Linked DNA regions of Homo sapiens: region 2 is linked to region 1. The links come from fine-mapping of genetic effects on gene expression. A gene starts in region 1. The other region holds a variant in brackets. All regions are shown on one strand. Distances are from middle to middle. Region 1 holds the start of CEP43 (centrosomal protein 43). Region 2 has its middle 31 kb from the start of CCR6.

Region 1 (8,000 bases):
TGGTGCAATCTCACTGTAACCTCTGCCTCCTGGGTTCAAGCGATTCTCATGCCTTAGCCTCCTCAGTAGCTGGGATTATAGATGTGCACCACCACACCTGGCTAAATTTTGTATTTTTAGAAGAGACAGGGTTTTGCCATGTTGGCCAGGCTGGTCTCGAACTCCTGGCTTCAAGCAATCCACCCACCTCAGCCTTCCAAAGTGCTGGGATTACAGGCATGAGCCACAAAGCCTGGCCTTTTGTCCTCAATAATTTCCTTAATGGTATCTGGGAACTCGTCGGCTGCATCTGGGTCAGCAGAAGCTGCTTCTCCTGTTATCTTGACATTTTTTGAAAGCCAACCCACTTTTTAAAATTATCATACCTTCCTTCATCTTCCTTTTGCTTTGTCAGATAATGACTTCACTTTTTCTTGAATATTAGATTATATAGGTATGCCTTTCTCATAGCAATCCTGCACCCACAAAAAGCTGCATTTGCAATATGAGATAAAAAGGTATTTCCCAAAAAGTGCAAGGTTTTCATGCTTGTTGGTGTAGCTGCAGCGATGGCTTCATAAACTTCCTTTTGTTTTTATACCACAGTCCTTATACTGGATTCATTTATCTTAAAATGGCAGGCGACCTTAGCTGCAGACCTCAATCTACAATACACAGCAAGCAATTCCGCTTTTTCTGTAATGTCATTAACTTTTCTCTGATTCTTGGGAGCATTTCCAGCACCACTAGCGGCACTTCGTAATGGTCCCATGGTGTTACGCAAGGTTTACAGTACTGCAGTGAACACAACGAGAAATATGTGAGAACCTCAAGAGCTTACCTTTTACTGTGATATGCAATGTACTGGAGAGATCAACTGCTCACTCAGAGATGATTATGTTACTTGGAATTTTTAGCCAATACCAGCAACACTGACGCTCACTGCAATAGCAACAGGAGGTGGCTACAAAATCATTACAGTAGTACTCTATGTACTACAGTGAATTTGATGCAGTTATTATTTAATATTGCATCTTTACAACTGTTTACACCTCTCTTGAACCTAATGGGTGCCATGTAACTGTCTGTTTGTACGTGTAAGTTTTGATAAATTTTAACTTTTTATAACAGGCTTGTATATATTTTATGATAGTAAATAATAAAATGGCCTAGTATCTACATATATTTTATGCATTCATGACATATCTAGCTTTTTCTTTTCTTTTTTTTTCCATATTTCTTGGCTAAGCGACTCATCTGTGAGGTTTTTCACAAAATTGTTGCCATCGCCAAAAATATTCCATTTACTGAAAAAAATCCACATATAAGTGTACTCACGCAGTTCAAACTAATGTTGTTCAAGAGTCAACTGTATAAAAGGTATTAATATGTCTGGAAAGAGATATGTTTCCAATTTAACAGACACTACCAATGAGAAGAGTTGGGCTAGGCAGGAAACTTCAAATTTTCCTTTTTTACTTTATATATTCTATTTGTATCTCAACTTATAACCTGTGGACCACGTTTATTAGAAGAAAATGCAGATTCCTGAAACTTCCTGCAGACCCCATGAGTGACAATCTCAGGGAGATGGAGTTCCAGAATCTGCTTTTTTTCATAGATGTTTCTTTGCCATTCCTGTGTATATCTGAGTTTCAGTAGCACTGCTAATCAATTGTTTGGGGTTCTCTCTCCTTCACCAGCATGTTCTTGCAAAACTAACCAAACACATATAAAGCGCAAACAGTACAATAGTGCACTGCACCTTCATGACCCTTACCTGTTCCAGCCTCTTCCTACCTCTTCCACATGTGATATGTGTGTACATACCCACAGACAGAAACACAGAGACATGTTTGGAAGCCAGTGTGGATGCCCTGTGATCTGTGTGTACACATGACAAGTGCATACACACGCACATAAAGGAACCCAGAGACGTGTTTGGAAGCCAGTGTGGACACCCTGTGATCTGTGCGTACACATTTGACACCTGCGTACACACTCACAGACAGAAACACAGAGATGTGTTTGGAAGCCAGTGTGGACATCCTGTGGTCTGCGCGTACACATGTGACAGGTACGTGCACGCCCACATACAGGAACACACAGAGGCCTTTGGAAGCCAGCATGGGCAGACAGGCCCTATCCCAAAGCGGCCGGCAGGCGTCTCCTAAGAATGGTTCTCGGACACACCTCTGAAAGGAAAATACAACTCGGCACCGCAGTTGACTCGGCCAAAGGAAAAAAACTTAAGCTGAAAGCTGAGGCCTGCCCGAAGGAGCCTTTCCTGTGGCGCCTGAGCCGAGGGCTTCAGGGAGAGGGCCGCGCATCGCAGCGCAGCCGCCCGTCTTCCCGTGGCTTCCCTACGGCCGCGGCTCCCGCTGCTCCTTTCCGCCGGCCACGCGGGTCGCACGACCTTCCCCTCCCGCCCACCCTGAGGCGCTGAAGCCCTCGACGCCGGCCTCGGGAAAGGCGCGGCCACCGCCCGTTTCGGATTCCCGTTTCCTTCCTCCGGGCGCGTCCTTCACCGTGGCCAAATCAGCCTCTCAACTGCTGGAGCCCGGCCTCGGACACTTCTCGGCTTACGCCGCCATACAGTGGCGCACCCCGAAACCCCGGAACCGACAGCTCGGCTGGCCTTGCGCACCCACACTCTCCAAGGCAGGGCTCGGTCCGGGGGCTGGTTTTGCCAAGGCGAGGGGCGAGGGGCAGCCCAGGCGGCCGGATGGATACCAAGAGGGCGCGTCAGCTCCGGCGGGACGGGGCTTCCAGGGCCCGGGAGGGGTCCAGGACTCCCCGCCGGCGCCTGGCTGTCGGCGGAGGGCCGCGGGGCAGGAGGGAGTGGAGACTGCGGCCCCAGTTCGGGCAGCGCGGAGCCCACCCAACGCCCTCCTCGGCCCTCGGCTCTTCCTGGGGCCATCCCGCCCCTGCACCTCGGCCTGGCACCTTTCCGGTTAGCCTCGGAGGCCGTGGCCGAGCAGGGTGCGTTCGCCTGGCTGGGGGGCCTCAGAACGTTATTTCCGGGTGACAACCTGCAGGGCCTTCCGCCCCTCGCGACCTCTCGGGAGTCCCTTCCCCGGCGCCCCCCCGGGGCTGCAGGGGCTGCAGGTTCGGTCTCGGGGCCTCCTTACCGCAGTCCGCCCGGCTTTAGGCTAGTGGGCTTTAACTACGTCGATAATATGACTCCGGCGATCTTGTGCGGCGATGGGATGCGGCCGTGGGCGGTGGAGTCCAGGCGGAGTCCGCTCTCCACACGCGAGGGCGCCTCCTCCTCACCGCTCGCCGGCTTCAAAGCTCGCGCCTCAGGCGACGGCAGCCAACGGGTTGCCGGCTGGAGGCCCCGCCGACGCCCCGCCCCTTGCGTGCCCACCCGCGCCCCGCAGCCCCGCCCCCAGCGCCGACCCTAAGTTTCGGCGCTCAGTGGTCCGGCGCTCCCCAAGGCTCGGTGTCCAGCGTCAACCCCGAGGTCTCTATGCCCCGCCTCCCGACGCCAGGGGGCAGGGCCAGCGCGCTGCGCGTCGGGGCGGGGCTTTGGCTGCGTCGGCCGCGTAGCCCGCGCGCGGAGCGTACCCTGCTGCGGCCGTTGGCCGTTAGCGCGGCTTCGGCGGTTGTCTTGGAGAAGCAAGATGGCGGCGACGGCGGCCGCAGTGGTGGCCGAGGAGGACACGGAGCTGCGGGACCTGCTGGTGCAGACGCTGGAGAACAGCGGGGTCCTGAACCGCATCAAGGTGAGGCCGGAGGCTGGGGCCGGGCCTGGCGGATCCGCAGGGCTTGCGTGGACAGCGGGCGTCACAACGGTCGCGGCGAGGAGGCCGCCTCCCTGGCGAGGGACCGGGGCCGGCGGGCACTGGGGGCGCGCCCCGGCATGGCCTCCGTCCTGCCCGCCCCACAGAGGGGGTCGGCTCGTTCGTTCGTGTGGTCCCGGAGGGCACCGCGGACTGGGGGTGCCTGGCCCATCCCCTGCCTCATTCCGTGGGGGCGGGACCGCGGGGCTTGGGGGCCACACGGGCGGCCCGCAGCTGGGCCCTGGAGTGCGGCCCCAGCGTCTCTTCCTCAGGCTCGGGCATGATCCGCGGCGGGAAAGCAGCGCGTCCAGCCGAAGCCTGGGGGTCGGAGAGCTTGTGTGACTGAGAACGTTTCGGAAGGCGTTTCTGACCTTTGCACCTGCCCTCCCAGCTCGTTGGCTTGCTCGTGTTTGTTGCTGGATAAATGTGAGCTTGTTGTGAAAATTGTCTTGAAATTATAATTTCCTGTTTCTTAACTTTTTTTTAAGGCTGAACTCCGAGCAGCTGTGTTTTTAGCACTAGAGGAGCAAGAAAAAGTAGAGGTATGAAGTTTCCAGATTTTAACATGGCTGTATTCGTTAATACTTAATTTCTTATTCATTAAAAACCGTCTTAAAAATAGTTTATAGTAACATATAGCTAGGGATAATTTTGAACTGTTAAGGATTACATTACTATTGAGAGAGAGCCAAAATTATTCTTTTTTCGTGTAGCTTTTGAATTTGGGGGTAATCTTAAGGTACCACAGTAACTCTGATACTAATGCTTAATCTGAAACAAATGGTCATAGGAGTTTCTTGAAGAAATGGTGCCATTGTCAATGTGTTAAGTGCAGGTTCACTCAGATCCTTTAGTAAGCTAATATGTTATTAATCCCTATGAAACGGGGTATATAGTATGCAACTTTTCCCAAAATTATCTGACCACTCAATTATTTTGACAATGAAAAAGACAGCGATTATTTTAAAAGTGCAGCCACTACTCTATATTTAAGTGGGTAATTTAACTTTTTCGGAGTCCCACCAACCATCCTGAGTAAATATTCTGGAATTTGTCAACAAGAATAGAACCATCATCAAAGCCTTAAACTCTTGCTGTATGACAAATCAGTCTACTGTCCTCTCACTTCTTTAGACCTGTATACCTAATCTCTAATTTCATCAAAATCTTCAGTTCTTTGCCCTTTCCATGTCTGTGCAGGCATCAGTCTTCTCTTGGCAGCATTTTGCTCTGGACCCTATGGGTCTGGACCCCTAATTACCTTGCCTTAACGGTCATACGTGGTCTGGAAGAAATCTCAGTGGTCATTTAACCCAGCAAACTAACTCTTCCCACTTTGCACATATGTGCTCTTGGAGAAGAGTCAGTCAATCCTGTGGATTGCTGATGTTGCAAATTGGCAGGTACCAACCTGGTTAGGTCCTGAGCAGGCCCAGCAGCTCTCTTCTTCACCCTAGCTGTGCAGTAGCCTTCTATGTCACCCCTGCTTCCTTCTCTCTGAACACATGGTCTTGTTGCTTCCTCCACAGGGAAGGTAGAAGCCATTAGATCCTAACTTTATGTCCTCCTCTCCTGTCCCTCAATCTATTGCTCACCTGTGAAAATGCTTACCTGTGTCTATGTTTATCTGTACCTCTTTCCTTACTGCTTTAGAAGAAGAGGCTCTGTCCTGTCCAAGAATAATCACTCTGTCTTGTGTATACTTTCAAGTCTTTAATTATTTACTGTATCTTTGACCCCTTCCTTTTCTGATGGCTTTTCTTTTGAGCTTGAAAACATGTTTAAATAACTATTAGGAGTAAACTGTTTTCCTTTACTCACATTCTGCTTTTAATACCGCTGTGGTTTTTTTCCTTCACAACCTGGTTTTGACCACTCCTTGGTTTCTTTAGCATGATCTTTTTCCTGTACACCTGACTGAGACTTATCCACAGTTGTCATTCTGTACTGTCTCACAGACTGACCTTATTCATCCAGTAACTCCAGCCCTGTAACTTTCATGCATGTTTCTTTCCCGAGCTTCAGACCTGTATGTTAAACTGCCCACTGTATTATGCCCTTAATGGGACCATCATTTATCTGGCAAGAAATCTAAGCGTTTCTTAGGCCTTGCTCTTCTTTCCACCTGCTCAGCCATCACCTGGCTCTGTGTCTGTCAGGTGTGTATCTGAAGTGTCCCCAAGGGAGTGCTCTGCTGCCTCCTTTGTGCTTGTTTCTTCTTTTCCAGATTGCCTTATCCCCTTCCTACTTGCCAGTCTCCGTTTCCGTGGTGTCCCTCACCATCTCCCTGAAGTCCTTTTTCCACATTGCTCCTAGATTGGCTGTTTATAGTACACATCTGATCTGTCCCTCCATTCTCTTAAAATATTTCAGTTGACTCCCTATCTTAGAATTCCCTGAACCAGCCTACCAACTACCTTGAGGATCTCTCCTCTCCTTGTCTTTTATTTTAACAACTTTATTGAGGTAAAATTGACCTATAGTAAAGCTAAAGTATTTAATATGTACAATTTGATTTTTAATAGTTAATTTATGCAGCTGTGAAATGATCATCACAATCAAGGTACTGCGCATATCCTTCAAACTTTTGACCTTCAAAAGTTTTCCTTGTGCCCCTTATGTAACCCTCTCCCCCACCCCAAACCTTTTTAAGAATTATATAAATGGAATCGTATAGTAGGTACTCTTTTTTTTTGGTCTGTTTCTTCAACATAATGCATTTGAAATTCATTCATGTTGTGGTATGTATTAATAAATCATTTCATTAATACATTGTACAGATATGACAGTTTAGCCATTACCTGCTGACAGACATTTAGGCTGTTTCCAGTTTTTGAGTATTACAAATAAGGTTTCTGTGAACAGTCACATACAAGTCTTTGCTTGGATCTGTGATTTCTCTTGAGAAAATATGTAGAGGTGAAGTGACTAGGTCACATGCTAGGAATATTTGTGACTTTTAAGAAACACTACCAAATTGCTGTCCAAACTCGTTATGCCATTTTGCATTCCCATCAGCAGTGTATGAGGCTGCCACTGTAGCAGCAATTAATGTGGTCTTAAGGAAGCTTACCATGTGCTACCTACTGTAGCCTCTTCTCAGCAACAATCACAGGCTTGATGGTCTAGAAGTATTTTTTCCATACTTATTCAAATAAATGTATAATTACAAAAATAAGTTGGCCTATGGGCCGCATAAGATCATCTCACATTTCATGGATAAACTGGGAATTACAAGTGTATAATTAAATTCCTGTTCATAGTAAGTATGCTATAAATGGTAGATACCTGAGATGACAAAACTTTTATCAAACTTCATGTATTTGAAATAATAAACAGTTGTTGACATTTAATTGTATTTCACACAGGTATTTGAAAATATCTAGCTTCAAAAGCAGTTTATAAAACATTTAAAAATTAAAAATACAAATCTTCATATATGGTTTTGTTATATTAACTTTGAGAAATTACTAAATAGCACAAAGTAAGTCCTGTAGTAATTAACAGTTGTAGAATGGATTTTGTAAAACCATAATTTTATCAATGAAAACGTTAAACTTTATATTTTGTAGTTGTTTTTAGGGTAAACACATGACACTTAAATTTTTTTTTTTTTAACAGAACAAAACTCCTTTAGTTAATGAGAGCCTGAAAAAGTTTTTAAATACCAAAGACGGTAAGATGTTCAGTTTGTTCTTGTTTATCTATCTCTGAATTTTTGAATCTTGATACCATTTGGGAGAAATCAGGAATTTCAGGGCTTTTTTTTTGTCTTCAATTGTTATAGGTCCTCATTTTAAAATAATATTTTATTGTACAACAATCGTGTTGCTATTACATATTTTTGGATTTGGGATGTTGTTGCTTAAAGCCAGTTTTACTACAAAAAGCCAATATTAACCATTAAAAAGCGAAACACTGAAATCTATGAGATGATTGTCTTACAGTTAGTTACAGACTGATGATCCCAGTGAAAAAATCAGGAGATTGAGATTTTCATTACTTAATCATATTATTCAAAGAGGAAATTTGTAACTTAAAAAATTTAGAAACCTTTCTTCCATTAATTTAGTGTATCTATTTCATAATGTTAATTTAAAAAATTCAGTTTTTGAAGATTTGCTTACTTACCTTTTTCTTGATCTTTATAGGTCGTTTAGTGGCTAGTCTTGTTGCAGAATTTCTTCAGTTTTTTAACCTTGACTTTACTTTGGCTGTTTTTCAACCTGAAACTAG
Region 2 (16,164 bases), 92 kb after region 1:
TGCTCTTGCTTCTCTAGTTCTTTTAATTGTGATGTTAGGGTGTCAATTTTAGATCTTTCCTGCTTTCTCTTGTGGGCATTTAGTGCTATAAATTTCCCTCTACACACTGCTTTAAATGTGTCCCAGAGATTCTGGTATGTTATGTCTTTGTTCTCATTGGTTTCAAAGAACATCTTTATTTCTGCCTTCATTTCGTTATGTACCCAGTAGTCATTCAGGAGCAGGTTGTTCAGTTTCCATGTAGTCGAGCAGTTTTGAGTGAGTTTCTTAATCCTGAGTTCTAGTTTGATTGCACTGTGGTCTGAGAGACAGTTTGTTATAATTTCTGTTCTTTTACATTCGCTGAGGAGTGCTTTACTTCCAACTATGTGGTCAATTTTGGAATAGGTGTGGTGTGGTGCTGAGAAGAATGTATATTCTGTTGATTTGGGGTGGAGAGTTCTGTAGATGTCTATTAGGTCCGCTTGGTGCAGAGCTGAGTTCATTTCCTGGATATCCTTTTTAACTTTCTGTCTCATTGATCTGTCTAATGTTGACAGTAGGGTGTTAAAATCTCCCATTATTGTGTGGGAGTCTAAGTCTCTTTGTAGGTCTCTAAGGACTTGCTTTATGAATCTGTGTGCTCTTGTATTGGGTGCATATGTATTTAGGATAGTTAGCTCTTCTTGTTGAATTGATCCCTTTACCATTATGTAATGGCCTTCTTTGTCTCTTTTGATCTTTGTTGGTTTAAAGTCTGTTTTATCAGAGACTAGGATTGCAACCCCTGCCTTTTTTTGTTTTCCATTTGCTTGGTAGATCTTCCTCCATCCCTTTATTTTGAGCCTATGTGTGTCTCTGCACATGAGATGGGTTTCCTGAATACAGCACACTGATGGGTCTTGACTCTTTATCCAATTTGCCAGTCTGTGTCTTTTAATTGGAGCATTTAGCCCATTTACATTTAAGGTTAATATTGTTATGTGTGAATTTGATCCTGTCATTATGATGTTAGCTGGTTATTTTGCTCGTTAGTTGATGCAGTTTCTTCCTAGCATCGATGGTCTTTACAATTTGGCATGTTTTTGCAGTGGCTGGTACCGGTTGTTCCTTTCCATGTTTAGTGCTTCCTTCAGGAGCTCTTGTAAGGCAGGCCTGGTGGTGACAAAATCTCTCAGCATTTGCTTGTCTGTAAAGGATTTTATTTCTCCTTCACTTATGAAGCTTAGTGTGGCTGGATATGAAATTCTAGGTTGAAAATTCTTTTCTTTAAGAATGTTGAATATTGGCCCCCACTCTCCTCTGGCTTGTAGAGTTTCTGCCAAGAGATCCGCTGTTAGTCTGATGGGCTTCCCTTTGTGGGTAACCCAACCTTTCTCTCTGGCTGCCCTTAACATTTTTTCCTTCATTTCAACTTTGGTGAATCTGACAATTACGTGTCTTGGAGTTGCTCTTCTCGAGGAGTATCTTGGTGGTGTTCTCTGTATTTCCTGAACTTGAATGTTGGCCTGCCTTGCTAGATTGGGGAAGTTCTCCTGGATAATATCCTGCAAGTGTTTTCCAACTTGGTTCTATTCTCCCCGTCACTTTCAGGTACACCAATCAGACGTAGATTAGGTCTTTTCACGTAGTCCCATATTTCTTGGAGGCTTTGTTCATTTCTTTTTATTCTTTTTTCTCTAAACTTCCTTTCTCACTTCATTTCATTCATTTGATCTTCCATCACTGATACCCTTTCTTCCAGTTGATGGAATTGGCTACTGAGGCTTGTGCATTTGTCACGTAGTTCTCATGCTGTGGTTTTCAGCTCCATCGGGTCCTTTAAGGATTTCTCTGCACTGGTTATTCTAGTTAGCCATTCGTCTAATCTTTTTTCAAGGTTTTTAACTTCTTTGCCATGGGTTCGAACTTCCTCCTTTAGCTTGGAGTAGTTTGATTGTCTGAAGTCTCCTTCTCTCAACTCATCAAAGTCATTCTCCGTCCAGCTTTGTTCCGTTGCTGGTGAGGAGCTGCATTCCTTTGGAGGAGGAGAGGCATTCTGATTTTTAGAATTTTCAGTTTTTCTGCTCTGTTTTTTCCCCATCTTTGTGGTTTTATCTACCTTTGGTCTTTGATGATGGTGACGTACAGATGGGGTTTTGGTGTGGATGTTCTGTTTGTTAGTTTTCCTTCTAACAGTCAGGACCCTCAGCTACAGGTCTGTTGGAGTTTGCCAGAGGTCTACTCCAGACCCTGTTTGCCTGGGTATCAGCAGCAGAGGCTGCAGAACAGCGGATATTGGTGAACAGCAAATGTTGCTGCCTGATCATTCCTCTGGAAGTTTTGTCTCAGAGGAGTACCTGGCCGTGTGAGATGTCAGTCTGCCCCTACTGGGGGGTACCTCCCAGTCAGGCTACTTGGGGGGTCAGGGACACACTTGAGGAAGCAGTCTGTCCGTTCTCAGATCTCCAGCTGCATGCTGGGAGAACCACTACTCTCTTCAAAGCTGTCAGACAGGGACATTCAAGTCTGCAGAGGTTTCTGCTGCCTTTTGTTTGGCTATGCCCTGCCCCTAGAGGTGGAGTCTATAGAGGCAGGCAGGCCTCCTTGAGCTGCGGTGGGCTCCACCCAGTTCGAGCTTCCAGGCCACTTTGTTTACCTACTCAAGCCTTGGCAATGGCGGGCACCCCTCCCCCAGCCTCGCTGCCAACTTGCAGTTTGATCTCAGACTGCTGTGCTAGCAATGAGTGAGGCTCCGTGGGCATGGGATTCTCTGAGCCAGGCACAGGATATAATCTCCTGGTGTGCCGTTTGCTAAGACTGTCGGAAAAGTGCAGTATTAGGGTGGGAGTGACCCGATTTTCCAGGTGCCGTCTGTCACCCCTTTCCTTGGCTAGGAGAGAGAATTCCCTGACCCCTTGTGCTTCCCGGGTGAGGCGATGCCTCACCCTGACATGAAACTATTTTTTAAGGGCATAAACAGTGTCTACTTTTACACATGATTTCCAGCAGTAAATCAAAAAATGACAGTTAAGAAAACAAAATAAAACAAAAACAAAAACAACTCATAGTCAACTTATAAAGCAATCAATCAATAGAACCAGAATTCAAGATGGCCCAGATGTGGGAACTCTAAGACAGGGGCTTTAAAATAACTCTGATGAGGCTGTGCATGGTGGCTCACACTTGTAATCTCAGCACTTTGGGAGGTCAAAGTGGGCAGATCACCTAAGGTCAGGAGCTCGAGACCAGTCTGGCCAACATGGTGAAACCCCATCTCTACTAAAAAGACAAAAATTAGCCAGGCGTGGTGCTGGGTGCCTATAGTCCCAGCTACTAGGGAGGTTGAGGCAGGAGAATTGCTTGAACCCAGAAGGCAGAGGTTGCAGTGAGCCAAGATTGCACCATTGCACTCCAGCCTGAGCGACAAGAACAAAAACTCCATCTCAAAACAAAACAAAAACAAAAACAAAACAATACAAAAAAGCCCTGAAGAATTTGTTAAATGATCTAGAGGAAAAGGCATATGGCATACATGAACAGATGGGAAATTTCAGCAGAGAGATAGAGAGTATAAAAGACATGTGGGAATGCTACAAAAAATATATAAGACATAAAGAATTCCTTCAGAAAGCTTATCAGTGAACTAGTCTCAGCTGAAGAAAGATTAAGGAACTTGAAGATAGGTCAACAGGAATCATATAAAATGACACACAAATAACATAAAATGGGCTGGGCACAGTGGCTTATGCCTGTAATCCCAGCACTTCAGGAGGCCAAGACAGGTGGATCACAAGGTCAGGAGTTCAAGACCCGCCTGGACAACACAGTGAAACCCCATCTCTACTAAAAATACAAAAATTAGCCTGGTGTGGGGGCATATGCCTGCAGTCCCAGCTACTCGGGAGGCTGAGGCAGGAGAATTGCTTGAACCCAGGAAGCGGAGGTTGCAGTGAGCCAAGATTACACCACTACACTCTAGCCTTGGCGACAGAGTGACACTCTTGTCTCAGAAAAAAAAAAAAAAAAAAAACAACAAAAAAAAAAACATAAAATAGAGGGAAAAACTCTGTCTAACAAGGCCTCCAAGAGCTGTGAGATCATCTAATGTACATGCAGTTGGAGTCCCAGAACAAGCAAACAAACAGCAAGGAATAAAACAGAAGAAATATTTAAAGAGATAATTTGCAAATATAATGCAAGACAGCAAACCTCAGGTCCAAGAAGCTCAGGGAATCCCAACAGTATAAATACAAAAACAAATAAAAAATCTCCATACCAAAAAAAAAAAAAACCCCACCTAGACACATAAAATCAAACTTTTTAAAACCAAAGATAAGGAGAAAATGTAGAATGCATTTGGGAGTTGTGGGGGACATTACATACCCAAGAAGAAAGATAATTGTAATAGATTTCTTGTCAGACATGTAAGCTGGATGTTAATGAACTGACATCTTAAAGTACTGAAACAATTAATCCAGAATTCTATTATTCTATTACAGATCCATTAAAATATTGTTTTAAATTAAAGGCAAAAATAAAAGCTTTTTAGACCCTGAAAAACTAAGATAACTCACTGCTGAGAGACTTGTGCTACAATAAATGTTAAAGGTAGTTCTTTAGGCTATAGGAAAATTATACCAGATAAAAATTTGGGGTTACACAGAGAAGTGAGCACCAGAAATAGTAAAAGTGGATATTAAAAACATTTTCTCATGGCTGATTCTTTAAAAGACTGTCAACTATGGTGGCCAGGTGCAGTGGCTCATGCCTGTAATCCCAGCACTTTGGGAGCCTGAGATGGGCAGATGGCTTGGGTTTAGGAGTTTGAGACAAGTCTGGGCAACATGGTGAAACCCTGTCTCTACAAATAATACAAAAATTAGCTGGGCATGGTGGTGTATGCCTGTAGTCCCAGCTACTCAGGAGGCTGAGGCAAGGAGGTTGAGCCCAGGAGGGTGAGGTTGCAGTCAGGCATGACTGCACCACTGCACTCCAGCCTGAGCAACAGAGTGAGACCCTGTCTCAAAAAAAAAAAAAAAATTGTTAACTAAATTAAAAATAGTAAACAGGGTTTATGACAGATGTAGAAATAAGATACATGAAATCATTTGCACAAAGTGGAGGAAGGAGTTGGAACTATCTAATGTCATAAATGCAAACTACTAAGGAATGATAATATTCTGAAATTGTCAGTTTTTTTTAGGCAAAGTAATAATTTCAGATCAGTTGCTAGTATCAATGAACTATCAATGTTTGAAATGTTTTCAGTATAAGTAGTTCAAGGGTCAGTATGAAACTTAAATTTCGAGGGAAAAAAACTAACATCATTTAATTCTGTGGTTTTCAGATTTAGCTAATATCAGAATCACCTGGAAGAGTTTGTTAAGCAAAGTTTCTGAGCTTTCTGGGCACTATCCCTGAAAAGTCTGATGTCACACATCTCCTGGAGGTAACGCCTCTCTGTTTAACAAGCAGCCTCTGCAGCCAACAGGTTTTGCTTCTCTGGGGAGGAAGTTGACCTCAGCTGCAGTGACCTTCCTGGAGAATTAAACAGAGGGGTGCAGATCCTTACACATGGCCCTCTACCAGGATGACGACCTCCCTCTAGAACAGGAGATACTAGTTTTACTGGTTAATGGCAGAGCCGAGTCAGGGGAGGCCAGAACCAGGCAGAAGTAACTTGAGTTTTCAGCTCTGGAGAGACTGCAGCCTTGGTCAAAGCCAAGAAAATCCCCGTCCTTGCGTTATTGAAGTGGTCAGTGTGAAGAAACAAGAACTCCCCAGACACTGGATCTCTTTGATTGATCTAAAGACCTTTCACTCCAGGCACATGGGGCCCATGAAAACTGTGGGCCCAGCAGCATATCACACCAGCCTCTTGGTGTGGTGCTCTCTGTGGTTCAGAATAGGAGCCTCTCGGGTCACTGTAGGACCCCACCGGCCCCTTTCCTCCAGACATAGGCCACAGATCAGCAATGTATTTTAAGCGACCCCGTTGGCGTTGGGCCATGTGTGTGGCATCTCTGTGGCAGCAGGTGGCCACATGCTCCTGAGTCTCAGACTGGAGGTGAATAGGGCAGCAGAAGAAGTCACCAGTGTTGAGCCAAGTCACAAAGAATAGGGCCAGTGGCAAGGGTGATGAATGGGTCAAGGGGATTGTAGTCAAGGAGCTGTGGGCCAGGGCTGGGCTCCATGCAGGATTGTGCCTGGGGGACCATCGTGGGAAATGGCTTCCTTTGAGCTCCTCAAATGGAAGCAAGAGTCAGCCTGGTTTTCTTCCCTCCAGGGAGCAACACAGAAAGGATTTTCTTTCTTCCACACAAGAGGAAGTTTTTAGGCTCTGCCAAGTAACCAAAGTAATAGAAACTGTGATGTCTCCAGAACTAGCCTCCAACTTCCTCCAGGTGGCAGGAAGGGGAGCAGCCACCTCGCCTCTGTGGCTGCTTTGTTTTTCCCTTCTTTTCTTGTTCCTCCATAGCCTACTTCCTCCATTTTGGGGTTCCTGTATGTAAAGTACTCATTGACCCAGAGATTGTATCTCAAAACCTTGTACCCAAAGGAGCAATTTTCCTGTGAACGTTCCCAAGACAGCGTTCCCAAAAGGTGTTACCAGCCTCAAGTCAGCAATCATAGTGTGGAACGGCGGTTTAGTTGTTGAGTGGAATCTCTTAGCAATCTTCCGACAAGCTGGATCAATCAAGTGAAGCTAGATTTCTATTGTTGATTTTGTTGTTTGTATGTTCTCATGACTTAGGCATGACCTATGTGCCTCTCCTCCTCCAGCTCTCCAATTTTCGCCATCCACTGTGTGTCAGACTCAGGCCTTTGAGGTGCCTGCATCTCTATATACCACACATGAGGCAGGTAGGGCTCAGAAAGATTAACAACTTTACACACATCACCCCATTAGGAAGTAGTAGGGTCAAGAGTCGAGATTCAAATGCTGATATAATTCCCAAGTCTGTGCTCTTAACCAGCAATATCATCTTCAAGTTCAGCAAAGAGTGTTTTGTGTTTCTCTATCCAAATGATGCCCATCTACTCTGTACCATCTATGAGCGTACACCATCTATACTCTCATATCCTCACGTGCCCATTTTTCCTGTAATTCCACTTCTTAGGCTTGTTCCCTTTAATACTATAACCAAGCGAGGGAATTTCCACTTTAAAAGGGAATTTGAAAGAGTAGAGTCTCATGTGACTTCCATTCATTTCCCTGACCTGTAGTTGTCCAAGGGACAGAGGGCGTCTTTGCATGTTCAGTCAGTCTAAACAGCTTTATTTGGCAAGATGTTTACCAGTTTCCATGGTCTTTGGCAAGATGTAAACATGGGCAGAGGGTCCCGAGTAAGAAGAAGTTGGAAAGGAAGTTGCCTGGCCACCGATGAGGCTTCGCGTAACTGTTCCACATAAAGGTCGTCTACTGTTTTTTTTTTCTCTTTCAAGTTAAACCTCTTCCCCTTTTTAGATGACAAGTCACAAAGCTGATCTACCCCAGATTGTGGCAACCTCACCCTATCTATACATCAGCTAAAGGCTGATCGAAGATCAGGTCTAAAGATTGTTGCAAAAAATGAGATAAGCTTTTAAAAAACCCCAGATTCTTTAATTTTGTATGTCAGTCATCAAGTCTTCATTCACACGCTCACTCAGCAACTCTTTCTTGAGCGCCTGCTGTCTGCGCTAGACCCTGGGTAGGCAGGAATGCAGGCTAAGCGCCTTCTCTATGGGGCCTTACATCCAAGCGACAACGTGCCAGGAGGGGACCAGTGCCCAGGAGAAAAGGAAGCAGCATCAGAGCCAGGAAGGGAGTTGGGATCGGGAAGCTCTTTTAAGCTGGGTAGTCAGGGAAGCTTGAACTGAGACACCCAAGGGGCCGACAGTGTGGTTGTCTGGAGAGCAACCTGGGAGAGAAGCAGCAAGGACCAGGGCCCTAGAGCAGGGACCGGCTGGACAGATCCCAGACACAGTGTGATTGCCGGGGCAACTGGCATAAACAACAGAGCTGGGAAGGACACAGGGCAGCGGGAGGAGAGCAGGGCAAGGGCGAGGGCTCCACGGGGCCTCTAAGTCATGGGAGGACACAGGGCATTATCCTGGCGCATGTGGGGTGCCCTGGGGAGCTCAGAACAGAATCCAGACATGATTTGAATCATGCTAAAGCTTTGCCTTCTCTGGAGGGCAAAAGTTTGGGGCAGGAAGGAGTGGGAATGACTGGCTATGAATGTGGGATATACACTATTAATACATCCTGGAGATGGCCAGGAACATTTGCTGATTTTGCTGACGTATTTGATGTGGAGAAAGAATCCAAGCACGACTGCAAGGTTTGGGGCCTGAGCAGTTGGAAGGACTGACTGTTGCTTTGATGATAGCACATGTCGGAGGAACAGGTCTGGGGAGTGAAATTGAGTTTGGCTTCAGATCTGAGACTCTTCTGAATACTCTGAGTGGGGGTCGGCGTCTGGAGTTCCACAGGAGGCTCTAGGCTGAAGACAGCGTGTAGGAGTGGAGTCGGTTAATATGATTATTAACTGGATAGTGTCTTCCCAAAATTCATGTTCACGCAGAATATTATTTGGAATATTATTTTATATTATTTGGAAATAGAGCCTTTGCAGTTGCAATTAGTTATGGGACTCAAAGTGAAATTATCTTGCATTCAGGGCAGGCCTTATGAAAACAGGAGAGAACGCAGAGACGGAGGGTTTGTGAAGACGGAGGCATAGATTGGAGTGATGCATTCACAAGTCAAGGGGCACCAGGAACTGCAGACCCCACCGGAAATGGGAAGCGAGGCTGGGGACGGTTCCCTGCACAGCCTCCAAATGGAGCCACCCCTGACAGCACCTCGATTTCGGACCTCTGGCCCCCGAAGAGTGAGGAAGTAGGTTTCCGTTGTTTTAAACCACATTGTTTGTGGTACTTTGCTGAGGAAACGGACTCAGGGCTCAGCCTGTAAAGGGTGTTTACAGCATGGGTCTGAATGATGCCCTCCAGAACCTGTGCCAGTGTGTGTTGATGTTG[G/C]GGGGAGGTGGCCAGGCAGAGGAGCTTCGTGAATCTTCTTACTAACCAGTGAAAAGCAACAAGGAAGAAACAGACGGTGCGTTCCAAAGTAATTCTGGCCAGTGCTGCCTCTGCAGCTCTCTGGGTAAAAGCTCCGTAAAGACTGAAAATCAGGGAACCTCACTCCTACCCTGGTGCCCAGTACTGAAGCTCGGTGCCCAGTACTGAAGCTCGGTGCCCAGTACTGAAGCTCGGTGCCCAGTACTGAAAATCATCCTTACAATATCAGCATTGGCTTGGAGGGGTGTTACATATTTTTAAATATCAGCTTTATTGGGATAACTTACATACAGCAAAATGCATCCATTCTCAGGGTCCACTTCAGTGAGTTTTGACAACGACTGTGTTCCAGTGTAACTGCAACCCCAATCAAGATCTAGAACTTTCTACTCCCACCAGCTTCCCTGAGCTCCCTTCCTGTCAATCCCTCCCCGTCTCTCCCTGCTCCAGGCAACTGCTCACCTGTTTTCTGTGACTAAATAGAAGAGGCTTCCCCTAGGGTTTTGCATACTTGGAACCCTACGGAAGGCACTGTCTGTGCCTGCGTCTTCGCCCCGGCGAGCTGTTTCCAGAATCCTCTGGGCGGTGGCCTCGCCTCCTGGGCTGCGCTGCGATCAGCTGGGGCAGGCTGTGCTTCTCTTACCAACCCTGCTTCGGTGACACCGGGTTGTTTGCCTGACATTGGCCGTGGTGTGAGTGTTGACCTCACAGAAACGGGCCCGGGCTACCAGCCGGGGCTGCGTTCTCCCAGAGCACTGGAGGATACACATCTGCCGGTCACACGCTGGCCATGTCTTTTCACATTCAGAATAATTTCCTGATCACTCTTCTGCCCATATGAGCAAAAGTCCAGTCTCCATGATTGCCCTGCCCCGGCCTGCTCATAGCTCACCCTCCCGTGTTCCCAGGAATCCCAGGAGCCCGCCTCGAGGGCCGTATCCTGCTTCCAGAGGCATCGTGGACAGAGAAAGGAAGCCCGAGGCCCATCCCTGGCTTGACTGCGTGGGACGCGTTCTCCGCTGCCCTTGCTTCCCTCACGTGGAGCGGAGAGCAGGCGCTGAGAAGGGGCCCTGCGTGGTGACCCACTAGGGTTAGTTCAGAGCCTTGTGCACACAGACCCGAGGGGGTTTTCAAAGGAAGCTGACACCCCCGCGAGCTGAGGGCGGCTGTTCTCACGCATGCTCAGTGGCGCTCCCTGAGTGCTGAGAGCCACGGTCGGTGAGAGAGGAGCTTCCTGATGAGCCTCAGACGGTGCTGAAACCAGCCGACTCTGCCCAGGATCCTGAGTCCTGGTTTCCTGTTGACCCTTCCTTCCCTCACGACTTATTTCCCCTGGGAACTATCGATGTTCTTTTGGCCAGTGGGCTTCCGTTGAGGCCATCCTAATCATCAGAGAGGTTTTAGTCGAGTTAAACCTCAAAAGAGAAGGTGTTTCTTAATTTTCCCAGGGGTGCCCTTGGCCCTGATACAGATTTAGCTACCTTCCCCCGAAAGCCTCAAAGTTCTGCAAACTCACAGCCAAGCAAAACGCAGCTGCAGTCGAGCCAGCCTCGAAAGGTCTTACAACTTTCTGCAGTGGCCAGCTTGTTCTCTGTTTCCATGCCTTCCAGAATGAAGAAGATCAGTTCTAAGGTTTCTTACTATTTCTACCAAGAGACGACCATCGGCATTCCACAGACGGCTCCTCTAGCTGTGCACAATGCCTGTTCTTATCGTTATCACCCGCTTCGCGCCAGCGGTTCTCAATACAAATTCCTTGAGGTTTCACAGTCACAGATAGGTTGTATTTGTAGGGAAACAGAAGTGCTTCAGTGGAATACTATTGCTCTTTGTACAGAAACCTGACACCTAGTACTTCTGAATTCTAATCCTAGTTCTGTTAACAATTGGCTTTGTAGCAGCCTAGATAAAGTCAAATTATTTCTCTGTGTAAAAGAAAAACCTAACCAGTAGCAGGGGCACAGTAGTCTATGTGCCTTCCCTCTGGGCTTGTGGTTAGTCAGCAATGGGGGCTTTGTGAACTGCGTAGACCAGCACCCCACAGTCTGTTTCAGTTCCAGTTTATCCCATTGTCTCACGTGATCTTGAGTCATTTAATCATTCTGTGCTTTTTCAGCCTTCAGTGTAACAAAATAATTTACTAAGCACCTAGCAACTTGGGGTTTGCTTGAGGTTGTTATATCTGATTAGATATATCTCTATTAGATATTAGATGTGTCTGTACATGTAAAGTATGATACATTATATCCCCACAAGCCAAACAGGCACACGTAAGGCCAGCTTATAGCATTGAGATTTGGAAGACCCCTTAGAAGGTAGATCAGTGACCAACAACTGGGCAAGAAATTCCCTTGACAATGCAGCTGCTTGAGTAGTTTCAGTTTCAGAGCTCTCCTGTGGCAAGTGAATTATTGGATAGTAGTGACTTATTCATGTGTTAGAAAGTCCTTCTTTGGATGAGCTGGTATCTACGGAAACTTCCCTTATTCTACTTTTGTCTCTGCACCTAGCATAGTTCCTGGTACAGTATATAATGAGCCCTCAGAAAATATTAGGGGAACTGAGAACAAGACTGTTTTCTTCCACACAGTAGCTCTTTAAAATTTGAAGGTAGCTCTCATGTTGCCCCCTAATTTTCTCATTTTGGGACTAAACACACTCACTTGCTATAATTCTTTATAGAGGGGTGTGGCCCCCGATGTGTGGCTGTGGAAAGGCATGGTCCCCAATGTGTGACCGTTCAGGTTGCGTTTCTGAACGCAACTCACATCACTTCTAAGATAGGGTGTCCAGGTCTGGAAGAAATGATCCATTTCTCTACTGATGAGCATAGCAATCTGTGGGCCTGTTGCTGTCCACGTCTGGAATACCAGCTAAGGTGGATTGATGGTGCCGATGGCCCCCATGCATAGGTTCCTGGCACTCCCATCCTCTGGGATGTGGTCCACAGCTCCTCCCATTGCAGGTGGAGGGTCTGCTTCCCCACCCAAGTCTGCCTTGGCCTGAGACTTGCTTTGACCAGTGGAATGTGAGCAAAGTGAGGCTGTGCCAGTTCCAGTCTGTGCCACCAGGTCCCTGCTGGAAACCAGCTTCCATCATGACAGCAGGCTGGGGCTGGCCTGCATGAGGGTGACAGAGCACAAGAGGTACAAGAGTTGTTCCTGTCAAGGCCATTCTGGACCAGCCTGCACTGGCTGACCGATTGACCAGACAGGGAGTGTGCTGGGCCAGGTCATAGTGGCCCTAGGACCACCCTGGAGACTTGGGGGCAATGTTGAATGGTTATCACTGTGTGTCACTGAGGTTTTAGGGTTGTTTCTCGGGCAGTGTTGTTTTGGCAATAGATAATTCATACACCCTACTACTAGCACTGCCCAAGACTGGATTATCTGTGACAGGGACTTATATCAGACTTGTGACCTATGACCTTCGTCTGATCACTTTTATGTATACCAATTTCCCTACCTGTGCCATCCAACATGGTAGCCACCAGTCATGTGTGACTACAGAGTGCTTGAAGCATGTTAGTCTGAAGTGAGATGTGCTATAAATATAAACTACACACCTGATTTTGAAGACTTTCTACAAAAATCTAAACGATCTCACTGACAATTTTTATTGATTACATGTTGAATGTATTATATTTTAGATATATCAAGTTAAAATAAAAATATTTGGAAAATTAATAATTTCAGTTTGCTTTGTTTTGTTTGTTTGTTTGTTTGTTTTGAGATGGAGTCTTGCTCTGTTGCCCAGGATGGAGTGCGGAGGCTGCAACCTCCATCTCCCGAGTTCAAGAGATTCTCCTGCTTCAGCCTCCCAAATAGCTGGGATTACAGGCATGCGCCACCACACCCGGCTAATTTTGTATTTTTAGTAGAGATGGGGTTTCTCCATGTTGGCCAGGCTGGTCTCAAACTCCTGACCTCAGGTGATCCACCTGCCTTGGCCTCCCAAACTGCTGGGATTACATGTGTGAACCACTGCGCCCGGCCTCGGTTTGCTTTTTTGAATGTGGCTGCTAAAAAATTAAAATGACATACGTGGCTCACGTTACATCCCTGCTGGACAGCAGCGTCCCAGACAGAGCCCTGGAAACCTACATGTTTCTAATTTCCTTATCTTCATATTTTATTGTTTTCAGCTCAGAATTCCAACCACATGAGATAATATGGAACCTTGAGCACTATCTGTAGCATCTGTTGTCCATCACAGATCTTAGAATTCAGCAGGTTTGATAATCATCTTTCCCTTTTGCATGCAACTCATTGATTTAAAATAATTCTGACCAGCACAAGGCCAATGGCACGATCATGTAGCATTTCATTAATCAATTCTTTTCACACCAAAAATATCACTTCCCATTCCTGGTGGTACAAAGTGACTCAATCAGCAAGGAATCTACCTAAGCAGCAGGGTCATTCGGCCTACATTTGCCATTTTATCTCAGGGGATTTTATTTATTTATTTTCTGCTTTTTTTGAGACAGAGTTTCACTCTTGTCACTCGGGCTGGAGTGCAATGGTGCGATCTTGGCTCACTGCAACCTCCGCCTCCTGGGTTCAAACGATTCTCCTGCCTCAGTCTCCCGAGAAGCTGGGATTACAGGTGGCTGCCACTGCACCTGGCTAATTTTTGTATTTTTAGTAGAGAGGGGGTTTTGCCATGGTGGCCAGGCTGGTCTTGAACTCCTGACCTCAGGTGATCTGCCCACCTCGACCTCCCAAAGTACTGGGATTACAGGCATGAGCCATCGCGCCCGGCCTCTCAGGAGATTTTAAAGGAATCTGCGAGATGCTTTGCTGAAGTCCAGATCTGCGGGAGGTGGAGCTGCCCGAGCCCAGCGCTCAAGGCCCAGCCAGAACCGAACCAAGGCTGGCTGGGGCCGATGCACGCGAAGTGCTTGTCCCGTTTACTTCTAAATGCCCACAGGGTGTTCATTAGACAGCGTGGCCTGAAGTGTTTCCTGATGTCGAGTCATGGCCGCCTGGGTTTCTTCACAGCTTTCCTTTTGGAGCTCAGGGCGGCTGTCGTCTTGGGCTCCAAGGGTGCCTTTCCGCCTTCTCGGGTCCTTCCGGGTGCTGGAGCCGGCGCTCCGACACAGGGAGATGTCTTCATCAAGGGGATTCCACAGAGCCACTCCCAGCCTAATACCAGATATAAAAAGCTACGTTCATGGATGCAAGCTCAGTTTTCTACTTAAAAAGTGAAGAGATTCCGCTTGCAAGTTTGATTCAGTTCAATACCTTCCCTGATACCTCCTGTTTTACTTTTCTCATATATAATTCTTCCGCCTATACACAGGAAATGCAACAATTTTTTTCCACCAAGCCTCTTCTAGGTGCCCAGACCACCCCCGCTAACCCCAGTGTGCCCTGCACAAACGTGGGGTCCTGTGGATGCCCGGAGGTCATAATCGGGGAGCCCTGCTCTCTCTCCCGCACCTGGTTCCCTGGCCTCAGGCTGAGTCACACAGTCCCTCAGGCCTGGAGTGCTCTCTGACTCTCACCTGTGTGGCAAACGCCTCTGCATCCTTCAGCGCTCCACCCTGGACCTTACTCCTGCTGCGCTGCTCCTCAAGGCCCGGGAAAGCTTCCCAGGACCGATCTGGGTGTGGATGTGTGGGGCACGTTATTCTAACAATTTGAAGTAAGTTTCTTATGATGGAAGTGCCCCTGTCCCCAGGTCAAAGTACCTGCTTTCTAAAGCCCAAGTCTAACATCCTTATTCCAGTCTCCAGGCACGAACCTCGCCGAGACACCTCCACACTGCTCCCCATACCTCCCTGCAGTTTTCCTCCCTGGGTTCCTCCATGGACACGCTTCACTCTGCAGGGAACCTCCTAGCTCCCCTCCCTGCTGCCCCATGTCAGGCACCCTTGGGGATAAAAAGCATCTGCTGTGGGTGCATGAAGAGCATCTGCTGTGGGTGCATCTCCTGGCACGTCTGTCTTCCGTAGCTCCTCTTAGAACTCCAGCCATGGGTGTCGATTCTGTTCAACCCACAGTCCTCACATCCTGGGAACCCCCTTGTGGTTGCATTATCTTTAATCTTTTGTGATTATGTCAGTCAACACTGAGTTGCCTTTTACACAATGGGAGCAAGAGGAAGAAGGAGGAAGAGGAGGAGGCCAAGCTGCAGGGAAGAAGGATATGGAGAGGAGGGGGCAGCAGTTACTCCCACCCTTGGTTGATGACAACCAACACGTTTAGGGCTTGTTGAGTTAAAACCACAATCCCCCAGGAGGTGAATAGAGAAACTTGCGAGAAAAAGAGAGACAAAGGCATTTGTGAACAGGAAAAGCAGGCTTTGTTTTCAGGCTGCTTGGAGAAAGTACTTAAGTAATGACTTTTACTGGGAATAACTAGAATAACTGGTCATGGATAAAAGTCCCTTCTCTTGCTTTTATGTGTCCAAGAAAGTATCCCAGAAACCAAAGGTCATGGTCCCAGGAGGCATCTCAATTCTAGGGAATAAATGCTGAATGGGAGTCTGGACTGGGGGAAGATTTAAGTATCCAAGTCCAACGGGACGAGTGGAAACTGAGCACCACCTGATAGGACCAATGGCGAGAGCTCAGCGCCACTTCTGTGCGATTTCTGTCAGAAATGTTGGTCCCGTGTCTGGTCATAAGGAAACACGAAACAAACCCAAATTGAGGAACATCATATACGCTGCCATTGTCCCACATCCCAAGGTTATGGTTCCCGGGAAAGAGGAAACGGACTTATTTTGAAGGGGACTAAAGAGAATCTGAGAAACAAACACAACGTGTGATTCTAGATTGAATGCTTTTGCTAGGGAGGATGTTAATGGGGCCTGAATCTCTGCCTGCATCTCTGATTAGATGGTGGATGTGTGTTGTGGGCTGCGCAAGGTTGGAGATAACCAGGTCTACTCACGTTTGCGTCATTTTACAATGTCACACTTTTACTGATGGTATTTTACTCATAAAGCCATATGCTACATGGAGTTCCCAAGCAGGCAATTCTTAGTGCTTCCATTCACTCAGTTGTCAGGGCCACCGGCACACAGGCTCAAGCCACAAGCCATTCAATACTGCGAACTGTACATCAGAGTATACTTAACCAATACATAGATGTTATAGATTAAACACTCTACAATAAACAAAGTGAC

Evidence for each region. PIP is the estimated chance that this variant, and not a neighbour inherited with it, causes the effect.
Region 2: its variant is fine-mapped to the expression of CEP43 in whole blood (TOPMed, PIP above 0.99).

The regions. Positions count from the first base shown.
Region 1 is chr6:166,995,808-167,003,807 of GRCh38, forward strand. CEP43 (centrosomal protein 43) reads left to right here and starts at 3,590. Exons shown (of 13, transcript NM_007045.4): 1 at 3,590-3,707; 2 at 4,253-4,306; 3 at 7,386-7,440; 4 at 7,916-8,000. The coding sequence starts at 3,606. It overlaps MIR3939 (microRNA 3939), which reads right to left and starts at 2,105; the gene lies at 2,000-2,105. RefSeq lists an enhancer at 2,072-2,121 and silencers at 2,662-2,891, 3,182-3,701, 3,792-3,951, 3,962-4,051.
Region 2 is chr6:167,083,998-167,100,161 of GRCh38, forward strand. No RefSeq gene overlaps it. Among named protein-coding and RNA genes, the nearest start is that of CCR6, 31 kb to the right of the region's middle. RefSeq lists enhancers at 8,384-8,443, 9,329-9,398, 9,509-9,878, 11,209-11,268, 11,469-11,548. The variant G/C (reference allele first, on the strand shown) is at 8,989.